2 separate regions of the Homo sapiens genome follow, and region 2 is linked to region 1. Evidence: fine-mapped expression QTL. A gene starts in region 1. The other region holds a variant in brackets. All regions are shown on one strand. Distances are between the middles of the regions.

Region 1 (5,384 bases):
GCCTCATTCCTGACTCATGCTATGCTTTGTCCTCTTGTTTTATTCTTATTTCACTTCATGTCTTAATCTAGTACTTTATGTGCCTTGACTTGTAAATTACCTTGCATTTTTCCAAGAAACTGTTAGCTTAAATAAGCAAGCAGATTAACTATTGTATGTTTGTGGTCTTGTACCGTATTCGAAAAAAAAATAAAGAAAAATGTGTTTTTGTGAACACTGTAATTTCTTCTGCTGCCTAAGGACAAGCTTCCCTCCTCATAGAATGGTTTGTCTTTGCCAAGATAAAGTGAGAACCAATCAATCAATATCGATCGAGCGAATGTGGGGAATACCAAGAATTAATACCATAGTTCCCGCCCTTTGGTAGCTTGCACATTCAATTGTTGAGTGAAAACACATGTATGAAACCACAAATATGTGAAAAGTGATTATTAGTGGCACTAATAACAGATCCTTTATTTTAAGGTTTAAGGTGAAGTGGTTATTGTAGGAAATTTGATATGTGGTTTTTTTTTTTTTTTTTTTTTTTGAGACAGAGTTTCGCTCTTGTTGCCCAGGCTGGAGTGCAATGGCGCGATCTTGACTCACCGCAACCTCGGCCTCCCAGGTTTAAGCGATTCTCCTGCCTCAGCCTCCCGAGTAGCTGGGATTACAGACATGCACCACCACCCCGGCTAATTTTGTATTTTTAGAAGAGACGGGGTTTCTCCATGTTGGTCAGGCTGGTCTTGAACTCCCGACCTCAGGTGATCTGCTTGCCTCGGCCTCCCAAAATGCTGGGATTACAGGCGTGAGCCACCGTGCCCGGCCTTTTTTTTTTTTTTTTTTAACGATTGACAATCCCATAGGCAAATCAAGAATTTGTAAAAATTTGGGTGCTTTGAAGAGTTCTATAGCAAAGTGTTTGGACAAGATGCTCTTTAAGGGTCTATCCAATTTAAAAGTAATATTATTTATGGCCGGGCACGGTGGCTCACGCCTGTAATCCCAACACTTTGGGAGGCTGAGGAGGGCAGATCACCTGAGGTCAGGAGTTCGAGACCAACCTGACCAACATGGAGAAACCCTGTCTCTACTAAAAATACAAAGTTAGCTGGGCGTGGTGGCGCGTGCCTGTAATCCCAGCTACTCGGGAGGCTGAGGCAGGAGAATCGCTTGAACCAGGGAGGCCGAGGTTGCAGTGAGCCGAGATTGCGCCATTGCACTTCAGCCTGGGCAACAAGAGCGAGACTGGGTCTCAAAAAAAAAAATTCTAAAAATTATACACAATATCATTTAGTATATGAAATTCCAATTAGCAAAGGATAAGAGCTTTGCCTGAAGGAGACACAGAAAAACCCAGAGTGAGTATTGAGAGTAACTGGAGGGACACAGGGAGTATTTGTCATTTTTCAGAATTAGAAGTGCATTTGTCCTTGTGTGTGTTGGGGGTGGAGGTGAAGGGTGCAGGAGAAGGATGGGTACTGGCAAAGTCGCTACTCACTGAGCAAATTTTCAAGCGGGTGCCTTTCCCAATTTTGTTGAGCCTCTGATAAAAACACGTTGAAGTAAAATGTCCACTATAGTATCAAGTAAAAATTGAGACCGTAAGATATAGCAAAGGGAGTCAATTTGCATAGCCCATTTTAATGCTTCTACTTTCTCTAACCAATCTGAAGACTCAGTTGTTCCCACTCCCATCTCCACTTTCCCTTTCATGCCTCCAAATGTTAAACTCCAACTATTGTAGCATTTTAACACATGGCTCCATTTGTGTCTATTTCCACCTAGCGTATTGTGAATATTTTCTACAGGCGCACACTAATCACCAACTGAAGTGAGAATCACATTTTCCTCCACTTGGCTTGGTACTACAGGTCTTGAAGCAAAAGCCTGTATTTCAGTCTGAGGAGTTCTACTTGCTTGAGAAAGTACTGTTGTTACCAAGTGGTCTCGTTCAGTGGGGTAAAGATTTTTGTTTTAGAGGCTGGAGCCGGTCTGCAAATAAAAGATGGCTTAGGAGAAAAGCTATCCAATGTTTTTTCCTTGGCCCGCATAGGTTGACGGTAGCCAAGCTGGTACTTGGCTTGGAGTGAAAAGTGGAGGCTGCCTGGGGGCGTCCTGCAGTCAGGGCAGAGAGAGTGTGGAGAGCTGTTGGGAGGTGTCCCACCCACGCCCCCACAAGGAGGGGAAACCAGGTCGCCGCGGTCTGCAGCAGAACGCCAGGTTCCAGAGGACGGCAGGCGGAGGGCGGAGGGAGAAAGGCGCGCGAAGGCGCGGAGGAGGCGTCGGCTGCGGCGCCCACTCCCCCTAGTCCCAGCGCCCTGCCGCTCGCCTCCCGCTGCCGGGCGCCGGCGCGCTCGGCTCTTTCCGCCGCCGCCGCTGCCGCGCGGTGGCCCGTGCGCCTCGGCACCTTCGGCAATTTCCGTCGGGCCCCAGCCGCCATTTTCTCGCCGCTTGTGTGGCTCGCTGGCTGCGTGGCTCGGTTCTTGTGAGCGAAGCTTTGTCCGGTTCGGCAATGGACGGGTATGTAATCGGGCCGGCGAGAAGGTGTGTGTGAGAGAGGAGTTGGACCGTCCTTCGGCCCGGTCCCGGGCCGGGGAGAAACCCTCCCGCGGCCCCTCCCAGGGCTGGGCTGCCGTTACCCAACCCCCGCCCCATCGCACACACCCCTCCCTTTGCTTCCCCCGGCGGGCTTTGGTCGAGAAAATGAGAAGAAAGCGGGCTTGGAGGCTGGGGAGGCATAGGGGCGATGGCGGGGGTGAGGATCCCGGAGTGGGAGCGGGCACCGGCTTGGCGGCGGGGGATGGGGTGGGAACCCCATAACGTCTCCCCGGTCTGTCCCTGCCCCCTCTAGGAGCCATTTCGATCCGTACCTTGGGACCCGACCCTTGGGTTAGCGGTGCCTGTGAGAGCGAGTGGGATGGGCAGAGACAGGCCTTTGGATTGGGGGAGCCTCTAGGGGAAGAGGAGAGAGGCACCCCATGTGGACCCCAGCCATGAGCAACCTCTCCGGCCTCGCCCGGCCCTCCGTGGTCGGGAGAGATGCCGGTGGCGGGAGCTCCGGGGAAAGCCTAGTGGGAGCCGCTGGGGAAGGGGGGAGGGCGTGCGGCGGCGGGAGGAAGGGGGAGGGCAGATGTCATACTCCTTTGTTTTCATTTGAGTCTGGTAGTGGGGGCGGGAGGGAGGAAAAAATGCCTTTTTGTGGGGACTGAAAACATTCAAGGCTTGGCAAAAGGGCCCAGAAATTAAATCATCTAAAAAACGAAGTGTTTGAAGCCGACATCAGTCACATGGGCAAAGGCCAACAGCAATGGCAGAAACAAGAGCAGATAGTCAACAAAGGGCTATCTCTTTAGCTACTTTGGTCAGTTTCTGGAAAAACGACTATAAAAACCCAGAACCATGCTGCATCTTTGCGAACCTGAGTCAAGACGGAATGCTGAGTGAGGTGAGAGGCAAGACTGTGAAATGGTAGGGACCGATGTCTCGCTCATATGCTTCACACCTGAAAAGACTCAGTAATTTAACTCAATGTTAGAAAGGGGGCACGCTTAAGGTCAAAAATACAGCAGTATGCAGCTCTTTTGGGAGTGTAAACATAGTATCATTTAACAAGTACATTTATTAAAATCAGTGAGTATTTGAAGAATCAACAATTTGGTTAAGCGCCTAGAGTTTGGTGTGTTTTAAAAGGTACTAAAAACAAGATTTTATAAAAGTTAACACAGTCTCACAGAATTCAAATCATCCTAGATGTTACCTAAAGATTATTTTCCAGATGAAACAAATCCAGAGAAGTTCAGTATTCCCCCCAGATCAACACGGAAATTGATGTCAAAACTTGCACTAGAATTCATGTTTCCTGATTCCTGGTTCCTGTGGAGACTACTAAAGAGTTTAAGCGTTAAATTATTAATCTCAGTATACTGGCATTGTAGAAATGGCATAGTGTTTTGGGTTTTGTTCTTTTTGGCTATTGAATGTGTTGTTAAAAAATACCACAAGTTGTCTCACATTTGAAAGTTACTTTTAGAAAACCAGGTTGGTAACAGTACAGGTAAGTCACGGATCATCTGTGGTATTTTTTATCCCCATCTGTGTGTGAGTGGCTGGAAGATTTATGAATGATGGACTATCCTAAAAAGTTTTAGAGCCAAAGAGTGAGTGATTAGAAGAATAACAGGAGGTTGAAACTACTTATTTTTTCTTTGCAGAATCGTCACTGAGGTTGCAGTTGGCGTGAAGGTAGGAAAATACTATGTTTGAAACTGGGATTGTTGGATCTATTATCATAATTACTGGAAAATTTTAGCTTTTGCTTTTGAAAACTATAACGTAGCTAACAAAACCCAAGTGTAAAATGTTTCCTTTCATTTGTAAAGTTGGACCATATAAACAGTTTGTAATCACCATAAGTTTTTCTAGAACTGTCAGTCTGTAAGAATAACCTTTTAAAGTAAGTATGAATGATCAAGAAATTGAAAATGCTTTCACACATGGCTTCTTGTAATATAAAACGATACCCCAATTTTCTGAGGGGAAATAATGATTTTAAATGGATGGTAAGTGGTTTGACCTATATCTTATAATTTTGTTAATCTAAGTTTTTTGTTTTTTATTACTTTTTGTCATGAAAATGAATATATTTTGGTTAATAATAAAGCACATTAGAAATGAATTACACTGATCCTTAAAAAGGAAGTTGTTGAGGCAGTTAGCTTCAAATTTGAATTAGAAGTTAAGAGCTGGTTTGTCTATTAAAGAAAGTCTTTATGGTAGAGATCCTTTGGAATCCTTCCTTTTTGGCTAAGAAAACTACTCATCGTTTAAACTTTAGTTCTAATGCTTAACATTTTCTTGAGTACTTGCAACTTTTAATGTCATGATGTATTGTAATTTTTTTTTGTTTTTTGTTTTTTTGAGACGGAGCCTCACTCTGTTGCCCAGGCTGGATGCAGTGGCACGATCTTGGCCCACTGCAACCTCTGCCTCCTGGGTTCAAGCAGTTCTCCTGCCTCAGCCTCCTGAGTAGCTGGGATTACAGGTGCGCACCACCACGCCCAGCTAATTTGTATTTTTAGTAGAAATGGCATTTCACCCTGTTGGTCAGGCTGGTCTCAAACTCCTGACCTCATGATCTGCCTGCCTCTTATGATCTGCCTGCCTTGACCTCCCAAAGTGCTGGGATTACAAGTGTGAGCCACCGTGCCCGGCCTGTATTGTCATTTTTCATTTGCAAGCCTCTCTGTCCTGAGAGGCTTTCTGCTTAGTCCAGTGATGCTGACTGTTCAAACATTTTTTCGAATTCTTAAAATTGTATCCATAATGGGGGGAGGGGGAAGGGATAGCATTGGGAGATATAGGGGGGAGGGGGGAGGGATAGCTTTAGGAGATATACCTAA
Region 2 (5,391 bases), 98 kb after region 1:
CTTCATTATCCACAATACATGTTATCCTAATATGTCTTTTTGCTACAAAGAAATACTAATGTTTTAAAATTATTTACTAGTTTCATAAAGCAGAAAGATGTAAAATGCAGTTATAGAGAGCATCCCAAGCCAGATGAAAAGAAACCATGGATTTAGCTTTATATTTTCTGTTTGAACTTGATAGCCCAATCATAAAATGCACATATTTAATTATAGACTGCACTTAAGATTTCATATGTATAAAAAAGTTGCTGTGAAACAGGTAATTTTAACACTCAGGAATTTCAAGGCTAAGGAAGAAAGACATACTCTCATGAGCAGCTCTGAACTTCAAACAGGATTTTCTGGCTGCCTTAATATATTAAAATGGAGCCTAAATCTGAAAACGTTTTTTTCATTCAGAAGAAAGTACAGAATTCAGTGAAATTGAGTATACTAGGAAATCTGATGGCAAGAATTCAGCAGAAAGTCTTAATTTTAAACCGTAATATTCATTGATTATGCAAAACCTTAGTTTTATAGTTATTCTTTGTTATTTTGAATAGCTTCCCTTTAAATTTTCTAGTTTCAGATTTTGCAAATAAAAGTGTACATGTTAAAGTTATAGAGTATTAGATTATTCACATTAAGAACTGTTCAAATACGCGGAAAAATAAAACCGTAATGAACACCTATGCACTTCACTCAACTATATCACTACCTAACATATTCCATATTTTAAACGTAATTATATATTAGTTGAAAGAAAACGTTACAGAATGAACTGAAATCCCATATGAACCTCTTTCTGATCTTAGTTCAAACCTTATTCTTTCCCAAGAGGTAATTGTTACCTTCAGTTTAGTATTTTATTATTCAGTGGTTGCTTTTCAAGAGGAATTTGTCCTATATTCTGTAGGCTAAATTTCTTGTTTTGCCTAGTTATAAAAATGGCAAATAATATGATATTGGGTGTTTAAATAGTACAATATTGTTCAAAACACACTTTATAATTTTTAACAGACTGTTTGGACATTGATAATTCCCCTATCAAATCTCATGACATTTAACCAATTTTTAACAAGGATTTTAAATTGTGTTTAAGAAATAAGTCATTTGGGCCTCAGGTTTCTCTTAAGGATGTAAACAAGGAGCTATATCATTGGTATTTTAGACGCTGAATTATGTGTAAGGTCCTTAAATACAAACATACCCTTTGTAGCTTCACAGAGCCACCCGTTTTGCACTTCTCTCGCTTTTCTTCCTCCCTCTTTGGCTCCCATTTCAATGGACAGAAAGACTATGTGGCATCTCTATTTTCATTCACTTGGTTTATTGTCTTGGTATGTTGTATAGGTTTTTGAATCAGAAAATTTTAACATTTTTAGATATTTCAAACATACAAAAAATAGAAGAATATTTAACAAACCCTTGTCAGCTTCAGTTAGCAACTTAGATCTTCCTCGTTTCCTCCACCCAATTCTCATCTCCTTTATTAATGCAGATCCCAGATATATTTTATCAAGAAATTTTGTAGCATATATTTGTGTTGTTTTATTCGTGGTCATAGTTGCTTTCTCTAATATCTAGACTAGCCTAGCTGGTCAATACTACTTTTCTTCAAATCCTAGAACCTCCCTATTAAAAATATAGTCACCAGACCAGTGGCAAATTAGTATCACCTAGGAGTTTATTAGAAACTCAGTCTATGAGCCTACTGAATCTACATTTTGACAAGATTGGCAGGTGATGCATTTGGACATAAGTTGGAGAAGCACTCAATGCATTTTTTCAGTTCTATAAAAATCAGCTTCAAAGTTTTTTCCTGAGTGTGGAAATTATTTCATTAGTAATTTTAAGTTATGCAGATATAGTTAATACCAAGAAATAATTGAACTGAAAAGGAACCCGGATATCTAGTTTTAACCAGCTGTTTTAAAGATAAACAGTTCTAGAGATCAAATGAATAGTTTAGCAACATATTTATTGTAACTTACCTGTAGTTAGAATCCAAGTCCCTGGCTTTCCAATCCAGTCTTCAATGTATAATACTGATCAAAAGAAATACAGGCCTGCTATTATTCATAAATTTAAACTATTATGTACAAGTTGATAGCTTATAATAGAAATCAGTATGATTAGTGTTAAAAGTCAAATTTAGTCTGACAGGGAAGGAATGTCCATGTGAACTGATTTTTTTTAATAGAATGCAAATTAATACTCAATTCCTGATTTGTTTATTACATTTTGTGGTTTAATGAAATGATACTCAGGTCATTTTCATAAATAGCTTTTCTATTAATGCTTCCTCAGTCACATTCTCTATTCCTATTGCATAGCACAGTCTAACAGTTGAAATGCCTAAGCCTTACTGAATGATGACTGATATTCTCT[G/C]TGAGAGTTAGAGCTGTACTATAAATATACATTACCTGTGCAAAGTATGCCTTCAGGGGCTATTCCCCATAACCTTAGCAAAATTTTAAAATATTCTTATGGCTAGCAATCTTATCTATTGTCATGTCTTACTATTTCCTGCTTACCACCCCCATTTCTCTCTCAACCTTGTTGCTGCATTAGCTGTCCATCACTTAACACTGTTTATTTCTCTGTTTTTCTTCCATCATTCTCTTCTTTGCAACTAAATGATTTAGACTTTTTATAACCATAATCAACCAGTTAGATTCTTTTTATTTGTGGTTATTGAGTTGATAAATGATAGTGCATTTTATGTAATATTCAGGTGTTATGCTATTTTTATCTGGTTCACTTTAAAACCTCCCTCCCCCCACTCCCTTTTTTTGTGGGTTTTTTTTTTATTATTATTATTTTCCAGTTTTGTGTTGTTTTGCTTTTTAACTTCTGAGATTGCAGTGGTTCCAGATGGTTGAAATCACTAGTAGTGATTTACATGAAGCATTCATGTATTTATTACTGGTATATTCAACTATGGTGGAGGGAAATTGGTCGAAGAATTACGGTTAAAGAGCTCCTTTAAAAAGGAGATTTGTAGAATTCTAAAATGTGATTCTGATTCATATAGTCATGATTCTTAGAAATTAGCTACAGGAAGAGATAGAAACATTGCTATAGTTGTCTTTGCCCTAAGTTTGGAGTTTTATAGTGTAATATATATATAATAGCTCTAATTATAAATACACTTTTACTCTGGAAAAAGCATAGACATTGACATAAGAGACATTTAAAAACCATTATTTTCTCATCTGTAAAATGGAGAGAATTACTTCATATGTTCACTTATAAGGATTATGTGAAATACTGTTCCATTCCATTAGTAGTTTTTCTTTTCCTCTAATTGGGGGTGGGGGCAGTTTTTGGCATTCTATTTATGGAAGGTGTTTTTTTCCCTAAGATCATTTTGATGTCTCAGAAGACATTTGCTATGTACGTTGGACATTTGCCATGTACATTGTAGAGAATACAAAGATAAACAGAACCACAGTACAGCTGGTTCTATTAGACATTGAAAATGCATATTCTAGCATATTTAATATATTAGGGAACAATTTAAGCATAATGTGAATTTCATGTTTACTGAAGATTTCATCCTGAGAAACAAATGAAAGCAGAAAATTACAACCAACTGAACCAGCTGTGTAAGAAATATATATATGGTGTGCACACATGTACATACCTCAGACATCTATTAGCATTCTCAGTTTTCCACAAGTTAAAAGCCACGCTCATCCATATCTGGTGCTAATAACTTCCTATCCAATTTCAGATAGCTGTTTTCAACACATCTGACACCTTCTTTTTTTCAAGCAAACTTCAGGTCTTTTTCAAGATAAAGTCATTTATAGTAGTGTCTATATATTTCTTAACCATTTAACATGTAAACTGTGCTGCCTTTTAAGAAATTAATTCTATCCTTTTTAGTGTCAGAGTTGAAGATTTTGAGTGTTGTGCCCTAACCTTATCATTTTCCTCATAAGTCCTGTGGTTTTTATTGTATGATTTTGCATAGTGTGGCAATTCTTGGAAATGCTTATGTTGTGTTATAGTATAACTGACTTACTACTTTCAAATAGCTTCTAGTCTGATTCATGTTATGACAGTATACAGTATAGCAAAATAAGGACATCAGGGAACAGGAGGCTGAGCATATCACCATTTACCAATGGTAGCTTGAGCAAGGCACTTCATTTATCGAAGTCCATTTTCTCATCTGTACAATGGAGGTGATGATAGTACATGTCTTTTCTGTCTTGTGTTATTTGTAGTTTCAAGTAAGATATGAAATATGCTGTAGAAATACAGGGTTGGGAATATCTAGTGGTACAAAAATCAACTTTTGGCCCAATTTTAAGGTGAGATAATTATGAGACATTTTTCGACCTCAAAGTCTTTGTTCTTTTCTCTCTACACCATTGTGAATAACACAGTGTATATATGAGATTAATTTATTACCTCGACTTTCCATTTTTGTTTTGTAAAGTAGTTTAATTTTTTATATCTATTTATAAAGTTAACTGCAGGAGTGTACCTGCAGTTAACTTTATACAGTTAAGAAGAGGTTGGTTTCAGTTTTAAAGATTGTATGTCAGTGTAAAACATCCATTATTATGCTTTCAAGTAAAATAGCTCCTAAAAATATGGATTACTATCAACTTTCAAGGAAAATAGCTCCTAAAAATATGGATTACTACCAACTTTCAAGGAAAATAGCTCCTAGAAATATGGATTACTAGCCACATAAATTGCTAACATTTGCTTTTATTATTATTATTATTATTATTTTAGACACAGTCTTGCTCTGTCACCCAGGCTGGAGTGCGGTGGTATTATCTCGGCTCACTGCAACCTCCACCTCTCGGGTTCAAGCAATTCTCCTGCCTCAGCCTTCCGAGTAGCTGGAATTACAGGCACCCACCACCACACCCAGCTAATTTTTGTATTTTTAGTAGAGACAGGGTTTTACCATGTGACCAGGCTGGTTTCGAACTCCTGACCTCAAATGATCCACCTGCCTCAGCCTCCCAAACTGCTGGGATTACAGGTGTGAGCCACCGCTCCCAGCCTATTTGCTAATATTTAACCTCTTGAGAGTCTTTAATTCTTTTTTTCAACAAGTGTTCATTACCTGCTATGTGCCAGCTTAGATGCTTTGGATGAAATACAGGTTGGTGCGAAAGTAATTGCGATTTTTGCCGTTAAAATTAGAAAAACCACAATTACTTTTGCACCAACCTAAATAACTAAAACACAATTTCTTCCTATCATGGGGCTTTCAGTTCAGTATGAGATAAGTAAAGAATTATATGGGTTGATAAATTTTCTGGAGGAACTATTGGGTGTTATTACAGTGTGCTCAATCTTTAGCAGTTAGGAAAGGATTCTTGAAGGTAGTTGTATTACCTGGGTTGGAGGTAAGTGTTGGGGACACAAGTGTTA

What was found.
Region 2: its variant is fine-mapped to the expression of PTBP2 in fibroblasts (GTEx, PIP 0.95).

The regions. Positions count from the first base shown.
Region 1 is chr1:96,719,368-96,724,751 of GRCh38, forward strand. It overlaps PTBP2 (polypyrimidine tract binding protein 2), which reads left to right and starts at 2,417. Exons shown (of 14, transcript NM_021190.4): 1 at 2,417-2,505; 2 at 4,197-4,227. The coding sequence starts at 2,498. RefSeq lists silencers at 2,183-2,382, 2,613-2,892.
Region 2 is chr1:96,816,910-96,822,300 of GRCh38, forward strand. It overlaps a transcript of PTBP2 not described here. Among named protein-coding and RNA genes, the nearest start is that of PTBP2, 98 kb to the left of the region's middle. The variant G/C (reference allele first, on the strand shown) is at 2,374.